Linked DNA regions of Homo sapiens. The protein of the gene in region 1 purifies or fractionates together with the protein of each later gene. This does not show direct contact. Each region holds a gene or a part of one and is shown on either strand. Other genes may lie near its edges. The genes, in order: HEBP1 and COTL1.

What was found.
Region 2: the proteins of HEBP1 (region 1) and COTL1 fractionate together in Homo sapiens (co-fractionation; one large-scale study listed by BioGRID). This does not show direct contact.

What each region holds. Positions count from the first base shown.
Region 1 is NC_000012.12:12,975,999-12,979,816, reverse strand, and holds part of HEBP1 (heme-binding protein 1), read left to right. Parts: intron 1-194; exon of another isoform or gene 195-386; intron 387-795; exon of another isoform or gene 796-876; intron 877-3,818.
Region 2 is NC_000016.10:84,565,785-84,569,602, reverse strand, and holds part of COTL1 (coactosin-like protein), read left to right. Parts: intron 1-2,647; coding exon 2,648-2,758; 3' UTR 2,759-3,818. UniProt on the Homo sapiens protein: Binds to F-actin in a calcium-independent manner. Has no direct effect on actin depolymerization. Acts as a chaperone for ALOX5 (5LO), influencing both its stability and activity in leukotrienes synthesis.

The DNA.
Region 1 (3,818 bases):
GTAACCAAATTCTTTATTCAGAATACTGAGCTCTGACATTGGGTGAGATAAAACACTGCCCTGGAGGAGAGCTTCTTTCAAGATGAGGCGTTTATAGATAAAGACGTATTCACAGGCTTACAAAGATAATGTATAGACTTCACGTTTCTTTCTTTTAGGGGCTCAAAGCACTTTATGAGCATTTCTTAACTCACCTTCAAGTGCGCGCAGGAATTCGGAGAGCAGTGGGCCCACTGTTATTGTGCTCCATGTCCAGATTGGAAGCTGAGGCACGAACCAATGAGGCAAAGTGTCTGTGAACACAAGCAGAGTCAGCCAGAGCTAGGCTCCCTTCATACACCAGGGGATTCCGGGTAGGGTTCAGTTTCTGGCTTGTTTGTGCAGTTCTGTGATGGGAGTCAGTGTGGTTGGTTAAATTAGCAGAGAGGAGAACTCATGTATCTGTTCCCATAGCCCACCCAGTTTGTTTGTTTTCCAGTAAAAGGATTCTACGATGAAGCAATAGGGAAAATTTTATCTGCATTACCAGCATTTCAGTCTGCCTGGGAATAAATGTAAAGAATTGGGGGTTTTCCCGGAGTGAATTTTAGGACTCCCTGAGTGATGACATTCTCCATCTCACTCTCTGCTGGGTTTCCTTCTGCTTCTCAGCCCCTTCTCACTGTCCTTTGACCGGTCCTCTTTCTTCACCCACCATTTAGATATTAGGATTCTAAGGAGCAAGCTTCTGGCCTGCTGTTTGCACAACATCTCTACCACATGTCACTTCTTACCATGATTATAGCCAGTACCTACCCACTGGGCACTCCCAAGTTTCTGTCACTAGATCCTTCTCCTTCCCAAATTGGTATCTCTGACTCCAGTTCTGTCCCAAGTCTAAGGAGATTTTTACATGGTCAGACACACATTTAGATAATAATTGTTGCATGAATGTATTTCACAGAGGGCCCTTAATATTCATATGCCCCCCAAACTAAATCATGAACACCCCTACAGCTGCCCCTCCTGCCTAATGTTACTCTTCAGCCTTTAATCCCTATTCTGGTTAGCGGCATCTTCTTCTACCCAGAGGCTTAACTGGAAGCCCTGGAGAATCCTCTCTTCCTTCCTCTCTCTTACCTCCCTCCACATACAGGTACCTCTCAAATCTGCCTTTCTCCCACCTTCATCATCTCACACTTGGCTGTTCCTGGGCTCCGGTGGCCCCACATCTCTCAACCCCTTGCCATTTCCCCTGTCCCTCCACTGCCAGCAGAGGGATCCTTCCAAAGCACAATTGGATCGTGCCAGTCCTCTACTTTAAAACCCTTTCCAGGCCGGGCGTGGTGGCTCACACCTGTAATCCCAGCACTTTAGGAGGCTGAGGCGGGTGGATCACCTGAGGTCAGGAGTTTGAGACCAGCCTGGCCAATACGGCAAAACCCCATCTGTACTAAAAATACAAAAATTAGCTGGGCGTGTGCCTGTAGTCCCAGCTACTCGGGAAGCTAAGGCAGGAGAATCACTTGAACCTGGGAGGCAGAGGTTGCAATGAGCCGAGATTGCGCCACTGCACTTCAGCCTGGGTAATAGAGTGAGACTCTGTCTCAAAAAAAAAAAAAAAAAAAAAAAAAAAAACCCTTTCGTAGGTCTACCTGTGCATATAGGATGAGGTTCAAACTCTTTAGCATGGCATTCAAGGCCTTCGCATCTGGCTGCAGTGGATCCACTTCTCCTGTTTCAGTTCCCACCACTGTCCCCTCAGATGTTTATTATGTGAATGAGTGAGTGAAACTTATGTAACCACTTCACTCACTAGGTCCTAAGTGCTGTCATCTTTAGCTCTGTCAGGCTGAAGACATCACTTTCATTGTTTAGCCCAGAATTGTTCATTTAACCAAGGGGTCCAACATATTCAGGCACTGTGTTAGGTGCTCAGTGTACATCAGTGACCAAAAAATAACAAAAATCCTGCCATTGTGCAGCCTATATTCTATCAGAGGACACAAACCATAAACAATAAACTTAATGAGTAAATTATATAGTATGTTAAAAGGTGATAAGTGCTGTTAAAAAAGAAAGAAAGAAAAAGTAAAACATAGGAAGAAGATTGGGATGGGGTTAAAGAATGGGGTTTACAAGGTAACAAAGCATTTTAAGAATAGGCCTAATTGAGAAAGTGAGAATTGTTCATTGAGCCAGTTCATAATATTACTATGGTTTTTTTTAGTTGTATTTTGTGTTTTTGTTTTGGAGACAGGATCTCACTATGTTGTCCAGGCTGGAATGCAGTGGCTATTCACAGATGTGATCATAGCACAGTGCAGCCTCAACTCCTGGCCTTGATCAGTCCTCCTGCCTCAGCCTCCCAAGTAGCTGGGACCACAGGCATGCACCACAACACTCAGCTACATGGTATTTCGTTAGATTACCATCATGTCCCTCACCCTGGAGTCAGGGAATTAAAAGGCTCTTCTGAGCAAACTGCCAAGTAACAATAATAGCTACTGTTTGTTGTGAGCTTACTACGTGACAGGCTCTGCGCTGAGCAGTTTGCATAGTCTTTTCTCCTTTAATCTTTACAGTAGCCTTCGAAGATTGATGTTATCACTATCCCTATTTTACCAGTGAAAAACCTGAAGATTTGAGAAATTTTAGAATTAGCTTAAGACCTAGAAAGGGCAGCACTAGGATTTGAGCACACACTAGCCATTTTGCCTCTAACTGATGAAGGAAGACATTTGAGGAGCACTCCTTTGGAGCTTTCCAAAATCAGTATTTAAAGAGCCAACATTGTCCCTTTTCCTAGAGAACAGTTCAGTGTCACAGCACAAGTAGGGGGTGCAGAGAGCACTCAACACCTGCTTCCACCTCCAGCACTTGATTCATTTCAGACAAATGGTTCTCCAACTAAAGACATGGTTCATAAAAAACTCCAGTGTCTTACAGGCTCTTATTGCCTGAAAAAAGTCTTTCCTGGATGTTCATTGTCTGTCTACTAACCCAGTTTCCTCTCATTTGAACCTCAATGAAGCTAGAGCCCAACTTTCTTCATCTCCCTTATAATCTCTTCAATATATTTGAAGAATCAAGCCTCTGCTATTCAAAATTGGTCTCAGTTTCATCCATGTTCTGTAGCTGTTGTCTAGACATTGGAACAACCAATCCATTACAGAAAACATCCTGGGTGTTCACATCAGTGATGCTGCAATCCACATGCTGAATGCTTGTCCAGCATGACTAACCACTTGTAAAAGAGCAAAGCATGATTCAGAGGACTCCACCAAAAATAATGCATTATTTGGCCTAATCTTGGCCTGGTGCAAATTCAGACTTTTGAGTCATACAGCTCATTAGAAATCGGGATGTACTTGACTCTAATAAAAATTTTAGTGCAACCCAGATTTAGAGTGGTATATTTAGGCTAGGCTACAAGACAAATTTTGGAACAGAAGCACATGACGTAAGGGAGAGAATAATAATCTTGAAAAGAAAGGCTTTATTGCTTCTCTGTCCCCAATTTCTGCCATCAAAAGAAATACCAGATTTAGGAACAGTCTCTTTCCTTACTAGAAAAAGAAGGCTTTCATGATTTGAGCAGAAGAAAGGATTTATGAGAAGTGATTTCTTTATTTGGGGCATGTTTAAAGCTTGTGTGGGGCCCTCCCAAGTCTTCCTTGGGTCTTTGCCTTTGTTAGCTCTGAGATTTTTACTTTTTTAGTTTTGGTTTTTGGTTTGTTTTTTTTTTTTTTTTTTTTTTGACACAGGGTCTTGTGTTGCCCAGGCTAGCCTAGCTCTGTTTTTAAATGAAGCTGCTACAAGTCACTGCTGTGATGAAC
Region 2 (3,818 bases), on another chromosome or scaffold:
AAATAAAGTTAATATACTGAGGGCTGAACGAGAACATGAGTGAGGCTGTTCCTGGCACACATCAGCTGCTTGATAAAAATTAACCTCCCGTTCTCCACTTTGTTAGTGTTCTCAGTGGCTTTGCGCGCCAAATGCATTGTCTTTTTATTGTAAAGCTTGACTTCGGGATGCTCCTGGGCTCATCATTCTTGGCAATATGGCGACTTTTTTGTTTTTTATTTTTTAATTGTGGTGGAATTCATTTAACATAAAATGAACCTTTTTATGTTTATTTATTTATTTTGAGACAGATCTCACCCTGTCGCCCAGGCTGGAGTGCAGTGGCGCGATCTTGGCTCACTGCAACGTCCGCCTCCCGGGTTCAAGCGATTCTCCTGCCTCAGCCTCCCCAGTAGCTGGGATTGCAGGCGCCCGCCACCACGCCCGGCTGATTTTTGTAGTTTTAGTAGAGATGGGGTTCCGCCATGTTGGCCAGGCTGGTCTCGAACTCCTGACCTCAGGTGATCTGCCTGCCTCGGCCTCCAAAGTGCTGGGATGACGGGCGTGAGCCACCGCACCTGGCCTGAACCATTTTAAAGTGTACAATTCAGTGGCTTTCAGAACATTCACAGTGTTGTGCAAGCCCTACCTCTGTCTGGTTCCAAAACTTTTTCATCACCCCAAAAGGAGATGGTGGCTCTTTCAAGACGCCAGCTTTGGCATCAACTGGACCTTCTGGTTGTCTGACTTCGGACAAGCATTGTAATTTCCAGCCTTTGTTTCCTCACCTTTAAAATGGAAATAATGTTGATCACCTTACGGGCCTTTTTAAAAAGAACTTGATTGAGGTATGATGTATGTACCTCAAAATCAAGTCATCCTAAGTGTACTTTTTCAGTACTTTTTCGTGAATTTGTGGAGTTGTGCACCCATTACCACAATCCCAATTTTAGAACGTCTCTATCATTTCCTGTTCCCATCTCCAGCTCTGTGTAACCACGAGTCTGCTTTCTGTCTGTATGGGTTTGCCTTTTTTAGACATTTATACCAATGGCAGCTGACAGTACATGGTCTTCATGCCTGGCTTCTTTCACTCAGCATCCTGTTTCCGAGGTTCATCCATGTAGTTGCGTGTGGCAGCGCTTCATTCCTCTCTGTGGCTGAGGAATATTCCATTGTGTGGACGGACCGTGTTTTGATAATCCACTCCTCTGTTGATGGACATAGGGGTTGCTTCCACCTTCCATGATTCATATTTACTACTGTGTGTCATTCTCAGTACTGTGGCACTGTGCTGGTACACATAAGTGCTTAATAATTGTGGTTAGCCGGGCGTGGTGGCTCACGCCTGTAGTGCCAACACCTTGGGAGGCCAAGCTGGGCGGATCACTTAAGGCCAGGAGTTTGAGACCAGCCTGGCCAATGTGGCGAAACCCTGCTTCTACTAAAAATACAAAAAATAGCTGGGTGTGGTGGCAGACGCCTGTAGTTCGAGCTACTTGGGAGGCTGAGACATGAGAATGGCTTGAACCCTGGGGGCAGAGGTTGCTGTGAGCCAAGATTGCGCCACTGCACTCCAGCCTGGGCAACAGGCTTTTCTCTCAAGAAAAAGAAAAATGGTGGTCATTGTTTATGTTATTTCCTTATGGGCTTTTTTTTTTAATGTGGATGATTTTCTTACCTTTAGACGTGTTATTTGTGGTTTTGATAGCTTTTTTTTGTCAAGCTGTCCGTCATCGTTCTGAAATTTTGTTTGTTAAAGTCTTATGATCCACATATGGCAGTAACTGTGTATCATCATGGCTTAAGGGTGTCTGATAAGCCAGGTCACCTGGTTCCCTCATTCATGCCACAAGCGTTTACTGAGTGCATCATGGGTGCCTGCGGGTTCTATGGGTGAAACCTGTGTACTGCAAGAGGAAAGACTGACTGCATCCATTTTGCTGAGCCCTGTAGCCCCACAGCCTGGCGTGGTATTTGTTGAAAGAAGGCAGAGCCTCTACCCTCGTGTAACTCAGTGCGGGTGGAGAGCCCATGGCAGACCCAGGACTGGAGGCTCCTGCGTCATTAGGAACATTGGTGGCTGAAGCTTGCTTGTCCCAGCTGGCGAGAGCCAATTACGCCTGTCTCCTTCCACCTCCACGTATGGTGACATCACTTTGATAGCTTGACGTCAGCCACTGGGGGACTATTTACATCATGGATATGGGCAAAAGACACCAATCTGAGCTTTTGTCCTTTTCTTTTTTTTGGAGTGCCTGCACACCCGTGAGCCTTTCCAACCTCGTAACCTATTATTTTCCTGACGAGATAGTTTTTTACAGATGAGAAAGTTGAGGCACAGAGAATTGAAGGGACTTGGCCAAGGTAACAGCCCAAATTCAAGCCCCAGCTTCCTCGGGCCATCCCCACGGACATGGGAAGACGCAGCATCAGATCTGCCCCACTCCCTCCTCCCAGTCAGGTTTTTTCTGCCAGATGACTCTGCTGTTCAATTTCCATTGACTCTGCTGCTGAATTTCCATTGACTGACTCTGCTGCTGAATTTCCATTTCCATCTCTCATCAGGGTTTTCAGTGCTTTGCTTCCCAGTGTGTTGCCTGAGCCACCCTCACATCCTGTGCCTTCCTTCTTAATAGGAACGCTGTGTTTTCCTTTGTTCTTGCAGAATTTCGCTAAGGAGTTTGTGATCAGTGATCGGAAGGAGCTGGAGGAAGATTTCATCAAGAGCGAGCTGAAGAAGGCGGGGGGAGCCAATTACGACGCCCAGACGGAGTAACCCCAGCCCCCGCCACACCACCCCTTGCCAAAGTCATCTGCCTGCTCCCCGGGGGAGAGGACCGCCGGCCTCAGCTACTAGCCCACCAGCCCACCAGGGAGAAAAGAAGCCATGAGAGGCAGCGCCCGCCACCCTGTGTCCACAGCCCCCACCTTCCCGCTTCCCTTAGAACCCTGCCGTGTCCTATCTCATGACGCTCATGGAACCTCTTTCTTTGATCTTCTTTTTCTTTTCTCCCCCTCTTTTTTGTTCTAAAGAAAAGTCATTTTGATGCAAGGTCCTGCCTGCCATCAGATCCGAGGTGCCTCCTGCAGTGACCCCTTTTCCTGGCATTTCTCTTCCACGCGACGAGGTCTGCCTAGTGAGATCTGCATGACCTCACGTTGCTTTCCAGAGCCCGGGCCTATTTTGCCATCTCAGTTTTCCTGGACCCTGCTTCCTGTGTACCACTGAGGGGCAGCTGGGCCAGGAGCTGTGCCCGGTGCCTGCAGCCTTCATAAGCACACACGTCCATTCCCTACTAAGGCCCAGACCTCCTGGTATCTGCCCCGGGCTCCCTCATCCCACCTCCATCCGGAGTTGCCTAAGATGCATGTCCAGCATAGGCAGGATTGCTCGGTGGTGAGAAGGTTAGGTCCGGCTCAGACTGAATAAGAAGAGATAAAATTTGCCTTAAAACTTACCTGGCAGTGGCTTTGCTGCACGGTCTGAAACCACCTGTTCCCACCCTCTTGACCGAAATTTCCTTGTGACACAGAGAAGGGCAAAGGTCTGAGCCCAGAGTTGACGGAGGGAGTATTTCAGGGTTCACTTCAGGGGCTCCCAAAGCGACAAGATCGTTAGGGAGAGAGGCCCAGGGTGGGGACTGGGAATTTAAGGAGAGCTGGGAACGGATCCCTTAGGTTCAGGAAGCTTCTGTGTAAGCTGCGAGGATGGCTTGGGCCGAAGGGTTGCTCTGCCCGCCGCGCTAGCTGTGAGCTGAGCAAAGCCCTGGGCTCACAGCACCCCAAAAGCCTGTGGCTTCAGTCCTGCGTCTGCACCACACATTCAAAAGGATCGT